Homo sapiens: one gene and its partners. The protein of the gene in region 3 purifies or fractionates together with the protein of the main gene of each other region. This does not show direct contact. Each region holds a gene or a part of one and is shown on either strand. Other genes may lie near its edges.

Region 1 (3,500 bases), about 110 Mb from region 3:
GAAAATGCTTTACAGTGAGTGCGTCAACATATGACACCAAAACCATTTTATAAACAGCACTGTCCCATCGGGACAAGTCAGATCTGAAGCCTGAAACAATTTCCAACTGACACTGAATTGCCTAACAACTAAATTGGATATAATAAATATATGAAACAACTTTGTAATATCCCTTCTTCTCACACACTAAGTAAAAATAACAGGAAATTCATTTTCTTTTACTCAAAATGTGACACTAACAATATTATGATCAGAGGTACACTTTTAGATACCCAGGTCAAAATGGATTTAATGAGTATTTGTTAAATGACTAGTGTATGATGATCTTGTCAGGTCCTAAAAATACTCACTGAAAATGATCAAACACAGGTAGGAGGAAAGCTGCTTCCCATGTGATCTTACAAGTTAATGACGCACAAATCACAAAGAGTCTTTAGCAAAGAGTGATCCCTGCTAGTCTTTATTTCCAAATGGAAAACACATACGTATTCCTTAGCAAGCAGTAGTGCTAAGTACAGGATTTATTTTGATGGCATAAAAAAATTGATAGAATTTTTGTATGTTCTCCTTATGACTCTGTATTTCTTTGCTTCAGAAGAAAATGTACTCAGAAAACAGCTGAAGACACAATTCAAGAAATTATAAAACATAAGCAAAGATCTTTAAAAATTGATATTAGCTAAAATATTGGGAAATATTATTTATGATGACCTAGTAATAAACACTGTATGTTTCTTACCCCATTAAGATATTTTTCAGATATTTTGCCAAGTATTTCCAAGCAGTTATATTCTTAGTGCATCCGGCAAAATCTAAGACTCCAAATAATACCTCCAACCCCAGTTTACGGTGTTCTTCTTTTTCTGCAATGGTTTTAACAGTTCAAGTTTACATAAGGTATTAAAGTGTACAAAGCTAAAATTTACATGTATACATTTTATCAACTGTATATATACTTTACATATATGTTGTTGATAAAATACTGAATCATAAGCCTTCTGGTTAACAGTTTTTAAAAATTCATTATGCTCTTACTCCTGCAATGAATCTGAAAAACTCAATAAAAATCCCTGCTAATGAGGTAATGGTGGTGAATTTGATCTCAATATGGGTTACACTCCTCTACTAAGGACATTATTTAAAGTACCTGCCCTGTTTGGGCATTTTATACATGTTCTTTCATATTCAGAGAGGAACCTAGGCAGTCCTAGGACCAGCTTGGGCTTAGCCAGCTGATTTTCTTCTATGAAGGAGCATGCTCTCTTCTATGGTGTGCTGAAATGTAGCAGGGATTAAAATGGAGTGAATTATATAAAATCGAGCCATTTCTCTTTTGCAAACTACTGCCTTCACATTGTGTAACAGGAGTAGGCAAACTTTTTCTATAAAGGCCCAGATAATAAATATTTTAAGCTTTGCAAGGCATACAGTCTCTGTCACAACTACACGGCTCTGTCACTATAGTGCAAAAGCAGCCGCAGACAATACAGAAACAGATGGACTCCAACAGAACTTGATTTATAAAATCAGGAAAGGGGTGGATTTAGCCGATGGGCTAAACTAGTTTGCTGGTCCCTAGTCTATAGCTTGTCTACACAAGGTATAAAACAACATTTATTTATTACCTGATTTTCTAAGTAATGTATGGAATTCCAACATCAATTTATGAGATGGTACAATCTGATACAAAATCTGAAAGAAAGAACAGTCTTGTAATCTTTACATACTTGTAAAAGCATTTCTCAAATTTCAGCTTACTTTCAAAATAAAGTTCTTACTGTCTAATATGCTCCCTTTAAATTTATTAAGTATTTTAAAAATACCCTGGCTCTTTATCTAGTTTCAATCTAAGTATAGAAAAGCATTCTCTGTAAAGCTGTCTTAAAAAAAAAAAAAAAAAAAAGGCCCTGATAACAAAATAGTCAGGAGAAGTGAGGAAAATAGGCAGGGACTTTTTATTTGCTCCTTATACATATCTATACTGTTTACCACGCTCAACAACTAAAAACGATTTCTTTCAGAAGCCAGGACTGAAGAAAAAAAGAAAAAAATCAATTATCACACAGAAAATATACTTATTTACTAAACAGAAGAGATCACAGAATATTTATATAAAGCAAAAAAGCTAAAAAGGCTGGGAGTTAATTTCACAGATTGTGCTCAGGAACAGTTTACTAAGGTTATATGAGTAAATATTTTAACAACCTTTCACACAATGAAAAAATTAAAGATTTTTCTTTTAAAAAATAGGAAGGACTATTTTTATGAATATTCAAAAAATGGAATTTAAAGTAAAGCTGTATTTTTCATTTTAATACATTTAATACTAGAAATGAATTCATTCTGCTTACTAAAGTACTTTGACCTTACATTGAAATAATTTCCAACAAAATTAAAAGTAAATTTTGTTAATTTCTCTTAATCATTTTTAAAAAGATCAATCAAGATCAATACACCAATATCAGAGAATATTATTGAAATTCAGTTCCTATGAAAGTCACATTTGTCTCATGATTTTATAGAATTCTGTATATGGCTCAATTCACTTAGATTTTTCTATTGAAATATAACATGTAGTAGAAGTGCATACAAATCATGACACCAGTCAGTTTTCACAAAGTTAAACACTCAGGTAACCAGCACCCAGATCAAATAATAGCACATCACCAGAACACTAGAAATCCTCCATTTGTTTTGAAAAAGTCTTAGTCATGAGCCCTTCAAATGCCAGTGTTTTTAAAAAATTAGTTTGCTTGCTTTTGCCCTGTTCTATTCAGAGGTCCTCCACCTAGGACTCCAATGACAGGTATGTCAGATCTTTTCACCAATTCACTTGTATGCTCGTTTCTGCACCTTTCATCCTTTTTGTTCTCCATGGTTTAGCCTGATATTTTCTATGCAGTTCATTAATCCTCTCTTTTGCTATGTCCAATCTGCTATTAAACCCATGTATTGAGATCTTAATTCCAAATACCCTATTTTTCAAAAGGAAAAACAGAATTTCTCTAAATCCATCTTGTCTTGAATATAAATATGAGATAAGTATTCAACAGTTATTTTCTGTAGCATTTTAAAAAATCTTTTCAAAAACACCATTAGTGATTGATAACCTGAAAGCACAGTCTTGCTTTTGTTTTAAACACAATCCTTAATATTTTGTAATATAAATGAGCCAAAAGCTATCTTAAGAGAGTAAAATAAAAATAGCAACTTTAAAGGTATTGTTTAGTCCAGCCTGGGCAACATAGCAAAACCCTGTTTCTCCAAAAATACAAAAAATTAGCCAGCCATGGTGGCGTGTGCCTGTAGTCCCAGCTACTCGGGAGGCTGAGGTGGCAGGATCACCTGAGCCAGGGAGGTGGAGGCTACAGGGAGCCTCACGTGATCATGCCATTGCACTCCAGCTTGGGCAACAGAGTGAGACCCTGTTTCAAACAACAACAACAGCAAAGGATTGTTTAGTAAAACAAAGCCTGTTGAAAAATTTATAAAACTTAGTT
Region 2 (4,300 bases), on a different chromosome or scaffold from region 3:
GGTGGGCTGTGGGCTGAGGCCCTCTTCGCTGTGTGTATGCAGCCCCAGCACCTGGGGAGTAGGGGCGCTGGGCTGGGGGGGAGGTCCCAGGGCGCCTCCCACCAAGACCCAGGGAGAGGGGTCAGGAGGTGGGGTGGGTAAGGTCCCTGGGAGGGCACGGCCTGGGAGTCCATGGTGGGGAACGGAGGGCCAGGGTCGCGGGTTTGTGGGGGCAGACCTTGGGCGTCAGATGCAGGACAGCGTCCCCAGTGACTGCACCCACTGCCAGGCTCAGGAAGGTCTGCAGGATGTAGTGGGTGACCCCCCTGCAGCCAGTGCAGGTCAGCAGCAGGAGGCCAAAGACCGCGCAGAGGCAGATGAGCAGCGTGGCCAGGGAGCCGTACAGATACCCTGGGGGCGGGTGAGGCGGCTGTGAGAGCTTTTCTTCCAGACTCAGCCCCTGCTTCCCGGGCGCTGCTCACCAGAGCTGCAGGCCGTCAGTGTGGGCCAGGCCCTCACTCAGGCTGACCCTCCTGCCTCAAAGCCCCACTCTCCTGGCGACGCCACCTTCCCCTGTGTCTGTTGTTTCTACTTCCAGCCCCTGCTCACTCTCTCCATCCCTCATCCTGGGCAGCCACTCCTTCCTTCCTACACGGGCTCCACCTCTGTGCTGCCAGCACAATGTCGGCGTGGGCACTCACTCTCTGACTGGCTGAGCTGGTCCTGGACGGGGGGCCTGGACTGGGAGGTGCAGGCTCCACTCAGCTGCTGTTGGAGCAGGGCAGGGCTCAGTTGGGCCCAGGCCTCCGGGGTCACCCCAGCCTGTTCCGACAGTCCATATGCAGCCATCACGTCCCTGGCACTCAGGCATACCTGGGGGGTGGCAGGACAGGCTCAGGGGCCCAAGCAGACCCCGGTGAGGCCCCATCTTACCCCAGGGCGCAGCTCACCGTGTCCCACACACTGGAGCTGTTGCTGGAGCTGATGAGGGGCACAGGGTCCCGGCTGCTGGCTCCCCTGTGCCGATGACTGTGGTCACTGTGGGCCTCCCTGCCCACCCCCAGGCGCTGCATCAAGGCTGACAGCTCTGGCAGGGAGAAGAGTTGGCACCGCGAGTCTGTGTGGGCTCCGGCCCTGCCCCCCAGGGACGTGGAGGCTGGGGACTCGGGGGTGCCCCCCTCCACAGCCCAGCCCAGGCCTCACCGGCCAGCGTCATAGGGACCTCGCTGCTGTGCTGCTGGAACACAAAGTCCACGAAGTACTGAGGGCTCGGCAAGGCGTGGAAGCAAGACCCGCTCCTGACATGGTCCAGCAGGGCAGCCAGGACGCCGCCAGCACTGCCCGGAGCCCCCGCCCCCACCGCCTCCTCCAGCAGCTGAGGGATATCTACGCAGGCCTGGGGAAGAGGGGGCCTCCGCCTCAGCCTTTGGTGTGACCTTCTGCCATCCACCCCGCTGCCCCTGGATGCATCTCCCACCCCAACTACAGGATCTGCCCCCACCAGCCCCGCCCCTCCCTGGAGCCACAGCCCTCCCTGCCGGGCCCAGCTGCTTCAGGCTCCCACTCAGGCCTCTGGGTTCCTCCCTCATGAGGTCCCTCCCGGGGCTCCTACAGGCTCCCAACTGCCCAGTAGTGAGCCCCACGTTGTGAATCCCCAGCCGCAGGCCGACTCCTGGGCGTCTCCCCAGGCCCCCAGGCTCCCCGAAGGCTTTGCAGCCAGGCCGGGTCCCATGGGCCGTGGGACCCTCCTCACCCACTCCCCTGGTCTGCCTGGACTCTCCCTCACCATCTTGGGGGTCTGGCCGGCAGCCCGGGCCTGCATCCTCTGCAGCAGCCAGCTCAGGCCCGGGGTCAGGGCCTTGGGGCTCTCGAGCAGGGCCAGGAGGTGGTCTGCATGAGAGGCCCAGAGGCCAGCCCGAGCGTCCTCACAGGTGCCCTCGGGGTTGCTGAGGTACAGGACGGCGGCGGCACTGAGGCGGGCGACGTACCTGGCCTCCAGGACCGGGCCCGGGGGCAGCCCTGACCCCTCAGGCTCGCCCAGGCCCAGGGCGTCCTCCACAGACAGGCACTGTGGGCAGAGACAAGTGAGCAGGGGCGCTGGGCCCACCAGGGAGGGGAGAGGCAGGCCTGGCCAGGGGCTTCCCCGAGGGCCTGTTTCCCTTTCAAGTCCAACAACGTCCACCATCCTCTCTCAACCCCTGGCGCCCTTCCGTCTCCCCAGGCCCCTGTCCTGCTTCCCCAACTACAGGGGTGCACGCAGAGGGGTCCCCAACAGTGGTCCCCCATCCCCAGGGGACTCCCCTGGAGCCACTGCCAATTTGATGGCAGAGGGCCGGCAGGGGGAGTTGGCCCTGGGGTCCTGGGGAGAAGAGGGACTGTGTCCCTGGAAAGGCCTGTCTGCCCTCATGAGCAGGAGGGTGGGCTCTGGCCTGTGGGGAGGGTCAGGGTGCCCAGGTACTGCCACTAGCCTCCTCCGCCTCCTGGAGTTTGCCCAGGGCCCTTTGCTGCCGGCTGGCAGGGCGGAGCTGGCGGGAAGAGGCCAGGGCTGGGGGACCCGTCGGGTGGGGCTGTTACCTTTCCACACGGCCCGTTGGCGCAGTGCACACGGTCCGCCAGCGTATTTAACAGGCCGCCCAGAGCCTCTTGATCCAGAGCGCCCTGGCCAGAGGTGAGCAGGCTCAGCAGACCAGCAGGCGGGGACGCCGTCGCCGTCACCACCAGCACAGCCAGAAGCAGCCCCAGCTCCAGCGAGACCAGGGACGCCATACTCAGCTCCCAGCGTGCTCAGTGGGTGTTGCTGTGGCCAAGGCCCAGTGCTTCTGGGCTGGCTGAGGGCGGCTTTGCTGGGGTTGTCCAGGGCCAGACTGGGGCTGGGCTAGGACCCGCCCGGGCTGCATGAGGACCTCTCCCAGGTATTCCTGCAGAGCTCTGTGATTGGCTGCTGGAGATGCCTGGGTTAACCATTCCAGTGGCAGATCCTCCCCAACAGCCTGGAGCCACTGCCTGTGGGGGTCGAGGGCTGGGCCCCTTCCCCTGGACAGGCAGCCTCGGTGGTCTTTTTTTTTTCGAGTTGGAGTTTTGCTCTTGCTGCCCAGGCTGGAGTGCAATGGCGTGATCTTGGCTCACGGCAACCTCCGCCTCCCGGGTTCAAGTGCTTCTCCTGCCTCAGCCTCCCGAGTAGCTGGGATTACAGGCAGCGCCACCACGCCCGGTTACTTTTGTATTTTTAGTAGAGACAGTGTTTCTCCATGTTGGTCAGGCTGGTCTTGAACTCCCAACCTCAGGTGATTCGCCCGCCTTGGCCTCCCAAAGTGCTGGGATTACCGGCGTGGCTCACCACGCCAGGCCAGCCTGGGTGGGCTTCTGTCCTCTGCCTGCTGCCCCCCAAGCTGTGGGGCAGGGCTGGGGTGTCCCCTTCTGGCTGTCCATCTGGGGGCTGCCTCCAAGCTGGGGGACACAGGGCAGAGGTGCACAGATGCCCCCAGAGCCTGAGAGCTCCCAGGTCCCTGCCTCTGCCCCTCCCAACAGAGGCTGCCCAGACACCCTCGGTGGCCCCTGTTGGGGGTGGGGACATGGACCTCCCTCCTCCTGGGTCCTGGGCTGTGGTCCCTGTTGGGGACTGCGATGGAGTCAAAGAAACTGAAAAGGTGCCTGCTGCATCATGCTCCCTTAGGCCGGAGACAGCCCCAGGAAGCTCCAACACAGACAAACAGGAAGACGGAGCTGGGCCCTGGCAGCCACCTGGCCGAGCTTGGGTCAGGATAAGATTGGGGCAAGACCCCAGCTCTAGCCCCGGGGGCAGGGAGGCTGTGGCTCCCAGCCCTGCCCTCTCTGTGGGCTCCCTCTCTGGCCTTTGAGCCTAGAGGCCTTATCTCTACCGTGGTGGTGATGGCAGGAAGTCTGGGGGAAGGGGAAGGCAGATCTCAGGGCAGCTTTGCCTTCTGAAGGGGGAGTCCAGATGCCACCTCCCGCCCGGTCCAGCCAGCCTGACCCTGAGCATTGTGGGTGGGGCTGGGGTGGGGAGCTGGGTGCCTGAGGCCCAAGGACTCTGTCCCGCCATACACAGGGTGGGACGGGGCAGGGCGGGCATTGAGCCCAGTGTCCTGGGGTCAGGGTGCTTCCCCTGCCGGCCTCACCCCACCAAGCGGATCTCATGGTGCTCCTCTGGCTGGGCCCACCCGCAGTGGTATCCTTCTGGGGGCCCTTAGGGGAGCCTGCCGGGGGTGCAGATCCTGCCGGGGGTGCAGAGCCTGCTGGGGGTGCAGATGATTTCTGGGTCCCAGGACCATGAGGGGGCTGCTCTACACACAGCCTGAAGATG
Region 3 (3,500 bases):
TAAGAGAGGAGAGGGGGCAACCAAGGCCATGGAGCGGGAGAAACTTTGCCACCCCTCAGCCCTGGGAACAAACACTTCTCCCTGTGTCCCCCACCGCCATCGTCTTAGGCCCCGCCTGGGCCCCTCTCCCAGCATGTCTCTGTTGCTTCCCATCTGGTCCACCATCTGTGGCCACCTGCCCCCTCTGCTGTTGTCCCCCATCCCCAACAGTCAACCCACTGCTCTCTCCTTTCTATATCACCCTCCCCTGCCTTGACCTAGGTCACCCCTCAGGTGCAAAGGCAGGATGGGAACAGGGGTGGGGAGTACGTTGCCTGAGCTGTCTTCCTGGACAGAAAAGGAACAGCTGGGATGGCCTCTGACCCCAGGAAATGCCACCTGTGTCCCAAGCTTAGCCAGGCACACCTGGAAAAGTGCCAGGTCCCGGTCAGCCTCCCAGCCTCTCTTCCCCTGGCAGATGTGCCAGCGGAGACTGGAGGCCAAGAGGGCTCTGCTGTTCTGGGAGCTGCCCAGACCATGGACAGGAGCTGCTGCGTGTCTGAGCAGAGGAAGAAAGAGGCGAGGAGAATTCAGCCTCCAGGGGAGCCATCGGCCCAGGCTGGGGCAGCTGCAGCCATAGGGAAGAGAGTGGAGGCACAAACACGGAGACCAAACAGGGGAAGACAAAGCCTCAGGAGAGGAGCCAGCAATGGGCAAGTGGGAGAGCCGGAGAGCCGCAGGAGCAGGGAGAGGGCACCGGAGAGAGGCAGTGCTGCAGGGCTCCGCATGGGCAGGGGCGGGAAAGAAAGAAGAGACAAAGAACAAGAGGAGGAAAACAAAGGGGCAGTGGGAGTCAGCTCCCCCTCACCCCGGCCTCCCTGAACTTTGGGGTTGCCGTGGTGACTGCCTCCAAGGGTCAGGGCCGAAGGGAGAGGGTGGGGCCAGAGCTGCCGGGCCAGGAGGAGCCGTCCTGGATGTTGCCCCGAGCCTTCTCTAGACTAGGGAACCAAGGTCTAGGGCTCTGCCCTGGTGGGAGACCGAAGGCTTAATGGGGGCGCTTCTCTGCCAGTGCCTGGCCACGCTCACCAAAGGCAGGCTGGGTGTGGAGGACCAGAGGGAGAGGCCCTCCTTCCCACCTCCTTCCCACTTGTCTCAAGTGCCCAGGCACAGTTGAGGACACAGGAGCTCCAGCCTCCCTCTTCCGCCTCCTGGAGGGGAAACTGAAGTCTCAGGAGGCTCAGAACCTCAGCCACAGTCCCTGAAAAGCTCCTGCTTCCTGGTTCCTGTGGCTACTTTGAAGGGTGGGGCAGGGAGGCATCTGTCCAGCAAGGACCCTGAGTGAGGCCACGCCCTGACTCTGGCATACCCCTCCTTCCCCTTCAGGCCACACTCCCTGGGGTGGGAGTAGGGGCCTGCCAGCCTCTTCTTTTCCTCCCTTCCCTGATGGATTTGAAGGCTGCCTAGAGGGGATGTGACCTGATCCACCCCTGGGGTGCAGCTAACAGCATCCCCTCATGAGGGTCTCAGTTGTTCCCAGGCTTGGGGAAGGCACTCAGCAACTTGGGTGTGGTCTTCTCCCTGCTGCTACCTCTGGCTCCCCACAGCTGATAAAAAAAGACAGAATACTGTCACCAACCCCCTCCAACTCTCCTCCCCCAGCCCTGCTGTCCAGGGAGTCTGTAGGCTGAGTGCTTGGCCAAGCAGCAGGAATGCCCCAGCCTGGGTTCCGGCCAGGCTCCCACGCCCTGGGACTCTGTTCTCTCCTCAGATAAGGTGCCTTGGGGTCTCTGCCCTCAAAGCTCACCAGTCCACTGGCCTGTCCTGGTCCCTACACTCCATTCCTGGAGCTTGGGCTGGTCACAGCTAGCAGGAAAGGAAGGCCTGGCACCCTAAGAACAGCCCATGAGGTGGCAAGGGGGGCCCACGAGGCCTCAGCCTGCCCCCCAGCTTCATTGCAGCCCCTCCTCCAAGCCAGACCCGAACCACGGACTCTGAAAGTGGGGTCTGTTTGGACAGACAATGAGCTCTGGCCTCACTTCCTGTGGGAGCTCTGAAGGGGGAGCCAGGCCAGGCTCTTTCTGCCTGGAGGGAAAAGAATGCGCTAGACAAAGTCCCTGTCAGCCGATTCTGCAGCTCAGCCAGGAGGCAAAAGGGGCCAGAAGAGGACTACAGGGTCCTGACCCCTGGGTGGCGGCAGCCCTGTGCTCCCGTGGTCCCCAGCTCTGCCAAAGGCTGTGTGAGACTGCAGGAATATCTTGATGGGGGTGAAGGGGCCCTGGCCTCGCCTCCTCTCCTGCGCCACAGTCCTCTCTGCCCTTCCCCCAGCTCTCCTGGCCCCCCAGGCTTCCACGCGCCTTTTTTCACAATTCTTGGCAGCCATAGCCGGGGCAGCCTCACAACACTTCCCCGACCACGTCACAGGCTGGTAGACAGTGGGGGCAGCCAACCGAAGCAGCCCAGCCCAGCCCAGCAGAAGGTGGGGCCTGCACCAGCCGCCAGGGTTCCTGGGGCTTCTTCCCAAGCTGGCTCTTGCCCCTCCTGCTCTGTGCCAGGCACTGGGCAGGGAGGTGGATCTGTAGCTGCTTCCTGGATCGCACCCTACCTCCAGTGGCTGCCCAGACCATCCCCGCGAGCTACCCCCACCCCAGCGCCACCTGGGCCCTTCCTTACCTGACACCAGCACGCTCATGATGGCCTCCAGAGGCCGGTTGTTGTCCAGTGCGCGGCTTAGCTTCAGCTCACCCGTGGAGGCATTGAGCAGGACCAGGCTGAGTTCATTTCCCCGCTCAAAGCTGTAAGTCAGACTATCTGAGATATCAGGGTCATGGGCAGGTACTCGGCCAATGGCACCCCCAGGGAAGCTGCTTGAGCGATTGGTGACATAGTTGTTGAAAAGGATCTCAAAGTTGCCCAGCACTGGTGGGTTGTCATTGCGGTCAAGGAGGCGGACGTGGACTGTAGCCCGGCTCACCAGAGGAGCTGACGTGGCCTGGATGACCAGGACGTACTCAGGCCGGTCCTCGTAGTCTAAGTCTACCAGGGCTGTCAGCTCCCCGGAGAAGATGTCCAGCTGAAAGACCTCAGGGATGTTGCCCTCCACAATCTGGTACATAATCTGGGCATTGGTGCCTTCATCGGGGTCAGTGGCTGTGACCCGGGCCACGGCTAGCCCAATGGGGCTGTTCTCTTCCACAAACACATCAAACTCATCCTGCTCAAAGACAGGGGGATTGTCATTCACATCCAACACAGTGACTGTCACTTCCATAGGTGTGCGGGCTGGGGGCATCCCCTTGTCCACTGCATATGCCCGCAAGACATACTGGGCCACGTTCTCTCGATCCAGCCTCCGTAGCGTTCGCACGATGCCTGACGTGGACTCAACAATAAAGTCACCGTCTCCATCGTCGCCTCCTTGGAAGGTGTAGAAGACCCTGCCATTAAGTCCAGAATCACGATCAGTGGCTGAGATCTGCAGGACGCTAGTGAAGGGTGGCACATCCTCATAGACACTGCCCTGG
Region 4 (3,500 bases), on a different chromosome or scaffold from region 3:
TAATAGCCAAAGATATCTTAAATTTACTTTAAATAACAAAAGACAAAAAGAAGACATGTCTTCAATCACTCAGAAATCTTTAAGACATGAATCATTTCAAATGTAGGGCACTGGAGTGAATGGAAAATGACAAGTTAGAGACCTGAAGTGAATATTGACTTGAGATTTTATAAGAATTACTTAAGTAGCTGAAGAGTCATAACCATTAATCTTCTGGGGCATAAAATCAACTACCTGAGTATTATTATTTGAAGTGGATTTTCAGAATTAGAAACTGTTGATATTTTCTTAAAGTTGTAGCATTTGAAATTATCTCAGTAACCATCCAGTCTGATTTTCTCTTTTGGCGGAGGAGGACATAGAGGCTTATAACAGACTAGAACTTAGGTTCTAGTTAACTCCAAATTTGCACTATAAATACCTTTCCCACAGTGCTTGTGTCTTTTTGTATATTAATTATTCAGCAAATATATGTTGAGAGAAGCCACAATATGTAATGATATATGCAAACGGTAGCTGGGGAGTATAAACATGAATAAATTATAATCTTTGTTCCATGTGAATTTATAATCCAGTAGGAAAGATAAGACTCAAATTTAAAAGTGACGTGATGCATGTAAAACCTTTAACACCAGGCCTGCCTCTAAAGTATAAGTTAAAAACCAAGTAATAAAAATAAAATGCGATAGAAGCCAGGTGCAGTGGCATGCACCTGTGGTCCCAGCTAATCAGGAGGCTGAGGCAGTAGGTTCGCTTGAGCCCAGGAGTTCAAGGTCAGCTTTGGCAACATAGCAAGACTCCATATCTAAGGAAAAAACAATGTAATACAATGTGCTAAGTGCCATGTAAGAGGTGCAAACAATTATGTCTATTTTCTTAAAATTTAAAATGGAAATTCTGGTGTTCTTAAGTATGTGAGTGTAACCTAGATGACTTTTTAAAATATGGCCAGTAGTCTTTTTACACTGCACACACAAAATTATAACACATTTGCATTCTAAGCATTGCTTCTTGGCTTTATAGTCTGTATGATATCCTTCTTCCTCACCCCCTCCAATCAAACCGTACATCTTTCTCTGAATTAAGCATGAGGATTTGTCTGCAGTCATTTCCTAATGTTCCCTGTTAGCTGAAGCTCATCACTTCATAACCCACTTTAGAGTCCCTGGGTTTCATTCTGATATTCAGCAGCTACTTTGGTAGCTGACAACTTTTAGCCTTATCTATGCTCTGCCCAGGAATTGGGTAGCATTATTTGGTGCCATTGTAAAGAGAGTGGGAGATGTGCAGAGTTCAAACATGAGATAGGGAGTTGTCTGAAATGAGCTTTCAATTACTAACCCTAAGAGTCTATAATCACAATGGAATTTAAAAGGTGGCACATTTGAACAACATTTTTCAGAAATAATTCTGAAGCTGTATTAATGGACTGAAATGGGGAATAATTAAGAAAAGTTATCCACGAATGAATCCAAGGTAGGAAGGACAAGCATTATTTCAATTATCATAAGAAATTAAAGAAATCTGGGAGAAGGGATAGAGTGTTTTTTTAATAATTTCTCACTCTATAAGTGTTGTGATAAATGTATTCTGTATTATACTAGAGAAACAAATGAACTTTTATTTGATCTTGTTGCTTCATTCTCAATCAAGAGACTCAGAATATCCACTATGTTTGTACAAATTTGGCTGCCTTTCTGAAAATGGCACTTACCCAAAGTAAAGTATAAATCTATGGTAAAAATTCAAATTACTTTATAACAATGTATTATCTTCTCAGCATTCAAATGTTTTTCACTTTTAAATTCTGAATTAGGTTGGTGCAAAAGTAATTGCGGTGAAAACCACAATGGTGAAAACTACAATTACTTTTGAACCAACCTAATAAAATTTGTGGGAGTTTTCTCCATGTTCTCTTCCCCATTTTATATATTATACAATTTGTGACTCTATATTTGTAACCTTAGGGAAGTCAGTCATATAACCTCAGTGGTTTCTGTATTCTGTATCTGTTTATAACAAAGAGGTTAGTTTGAAGGATCCTTACAGAAAGATTACCTAGTATAAGGCTCTCATTTTGGAGTTGTGGAAACTGAGGCCTGAGTTAAGCAAATGACTGGACCATTTTTTTCTTCATTCATCCTGAGTGAGAGAGTAGGAAAGAGAGAAATCAATGTTGCCTATACCATAAATTGCAAAACTACATTATTACATTGAATTGCCTTTACTGTCTAACAGTACTTATTTGTTTCCTTAGGGAAGTATTGTAGAATATGTTTTTCACCTCATTAGCATCCAACAAAGTGTTAAATGTACATTAAGCCCTCAACTGAAATTCTCTTGCTGAATTTCAACTAAGCCATTGCTGAAATTCCATAATTCTTACAGGCTTTTCTTTATTCATCTTCATCTTACAGTTCACTAATTTGGCAGATAAATATGGACAGTGAATTTTATAGATTTACTTACGTGAAATTTAGGAAATTGGCTGAGGTTTGGTAGTAGAAGCAGGAAAATTTGACACAGACAGTTACCCAGTGAGAGGTGGGTAATAATCCTCCAAACTAAAGAATCTGCCCTTGCTAACTTAAATAATACTTTGGAGAGCAAGTCATTGTATCAATGAATAGTCATTTGGGCGCATAATTCTACCATACAAGTTCTTTTCCATTTACATAGTGATTTTAAAAATAGATATAGAGGTATGATGAAATGACTAAATAAATAAATCTATTGAGAAACCAGCTCATTTCTGCTTTTTCAAAATGAAGTTTCAAAAAATATTTGTTGGAGAGACACCAGATCTTCCTTGTTTTACTTCCTTCAAGAATGAAGTAATCAACTTCTTTCTGAATCTATTTTAGACTAACATTACATTTAAAACTAAAAGATACAGGCCTATTAGACCTCTGGGAGTCATTGACCAACCAAAAATGCTAGAACAATCTACCCACAAGCCACAAAGCATTAAATTAACTGTTTAATTAAGATAAAAAAAACTAATAGATTCATGACGTGATCACTCAGAGCAATTCATTAATACTAATGTCTGATTTCCTTTAACAGTATAAAAAGGAAGGAAATAAAGCTCTTATTTACAAGTTTATTTGCTGCAAAGGCATTTAGGAATTGCTATTTTAAAAAGAAAACTTGCGCTTCTTTCTGAGCCATCAACCCATACCGCAAAATGGGTGCAGAACTCAGTTTGCTAATAAAAAGAGAATTCTATAGCCATGCATGTGGTCAATGAAATGGTCTCTCTCTCATATATGTATATATAATGGTGTATTTCACTGTGAAATGGAAAATAAAACAGTGTGGTAGGGCTAAGCTTTAGCTAAACTAATTTAAGAAGATTTATAATATTTTTATTGCCCTAAAATATGTTCAGAGAAATTACCTGAAATCATTTCAGGGGAAACTGTTATTCTGTTAGATGCCTTGAATTCTTGAATATTATTGTGCAGATGTGCTAAAAATTCTATTTTAGCTCTTCCTTC

What was found. Proteins that work in one complex are often made in the same cells at the same time.
Region 1: the proteins of CELSR2 (region 3) and TAF1A purify together in Homo sapiens (co-immunoprecipitation; one large-scale study listed by IntAct). This does not show direct contact.
Region 2: the proteins of CELSR2 (region 3) and SLC39A4 purify together in Homo sapiens (co-immunoprecipitation; one large-scale study listed by IntAct). This does not show direct contact.
Region 4: the proteins of CELSR2 (region 3) and HTR2C purify together in Homo sapiens (co-immunoprecipitation; one large-scale study listed by IntAct). This does not show direct contact.

The regions. Positions count from the first base shown.
Region 1 is NC_000001.11:222,562,434-222,565,933, forward strand, and holds part of TAF1A (TATA box-binding protein-associated factor RNA polymerase I subunit A), read right to left. Parts: intron 1,693-3,500; coding exon 1,626-1,692; intron 864-1,625; coding exon 740-863; intron 1-739. UniProt on the Homo sapiens protein: Component of the transcription factor SL1/TIF-IB complex, which is involved in the assembly of the PIC (pre-initiation complex) during RNA polymerase I-dependent transcription.
Region 2 is NC_000008.11:144,414,045-144,418,344, forward strand, and holds the start of SLC39A4 (zinc transporter ZIP4 isoform 2 precursor), read right to left. Parts: upstream 2,801-4,300; 5' UTR 2,746-2,800; coding exon 2,554-2,745; exon of another isoform or gene 2,165-2,553; coding exon of another isoform or gene 2,048-2,164; coding exon 1,766-2,047; exon of another isoform or gene 1,376-1,765; coding exon 1,183-1,375; exon of another isoform or gene 1,067-1,182; coding exon 930-1,066; exon of another isoform or gene 853-929; coding exon 681-852; exon of another isoform or gene 578-680; intron 391-577; coding exon 218-390; intron 52-217; coding exon 1-51. UniProt on the Homo sapiens protein: Selective transporter that mediates the uptake of Zn(2+). Plays an essential role for dietary zinc uptake from small intestine. The Zn(2+) uniporter activity is regulated by zinc availability.
Region 3 is NC_000001.11:109,252,539-109,256,038, reverse strand, and holds part of CELSR2 (cadherin EGF LAG seven-pass G-type receptor 2 precursor), read right to left. Parts: coding exon 2,650-3,500; intron 1-2,649. UniProt on the Homo sapiens protein: Receptor that may have an important role in cell/cell signaling during nervous system formation.
Region 4 is NC_000023.11:114,590,586-114,594,085, reverse strand, and holds part of HTR2C (5-hydroxytryptamine receptor 2C isoform a precursor), read right to left. Parts: intron 1-3,500. UniProt on the Homo sapiens protein: G-protein coupled receptor for 5-hydroxytryptamine (serotonin).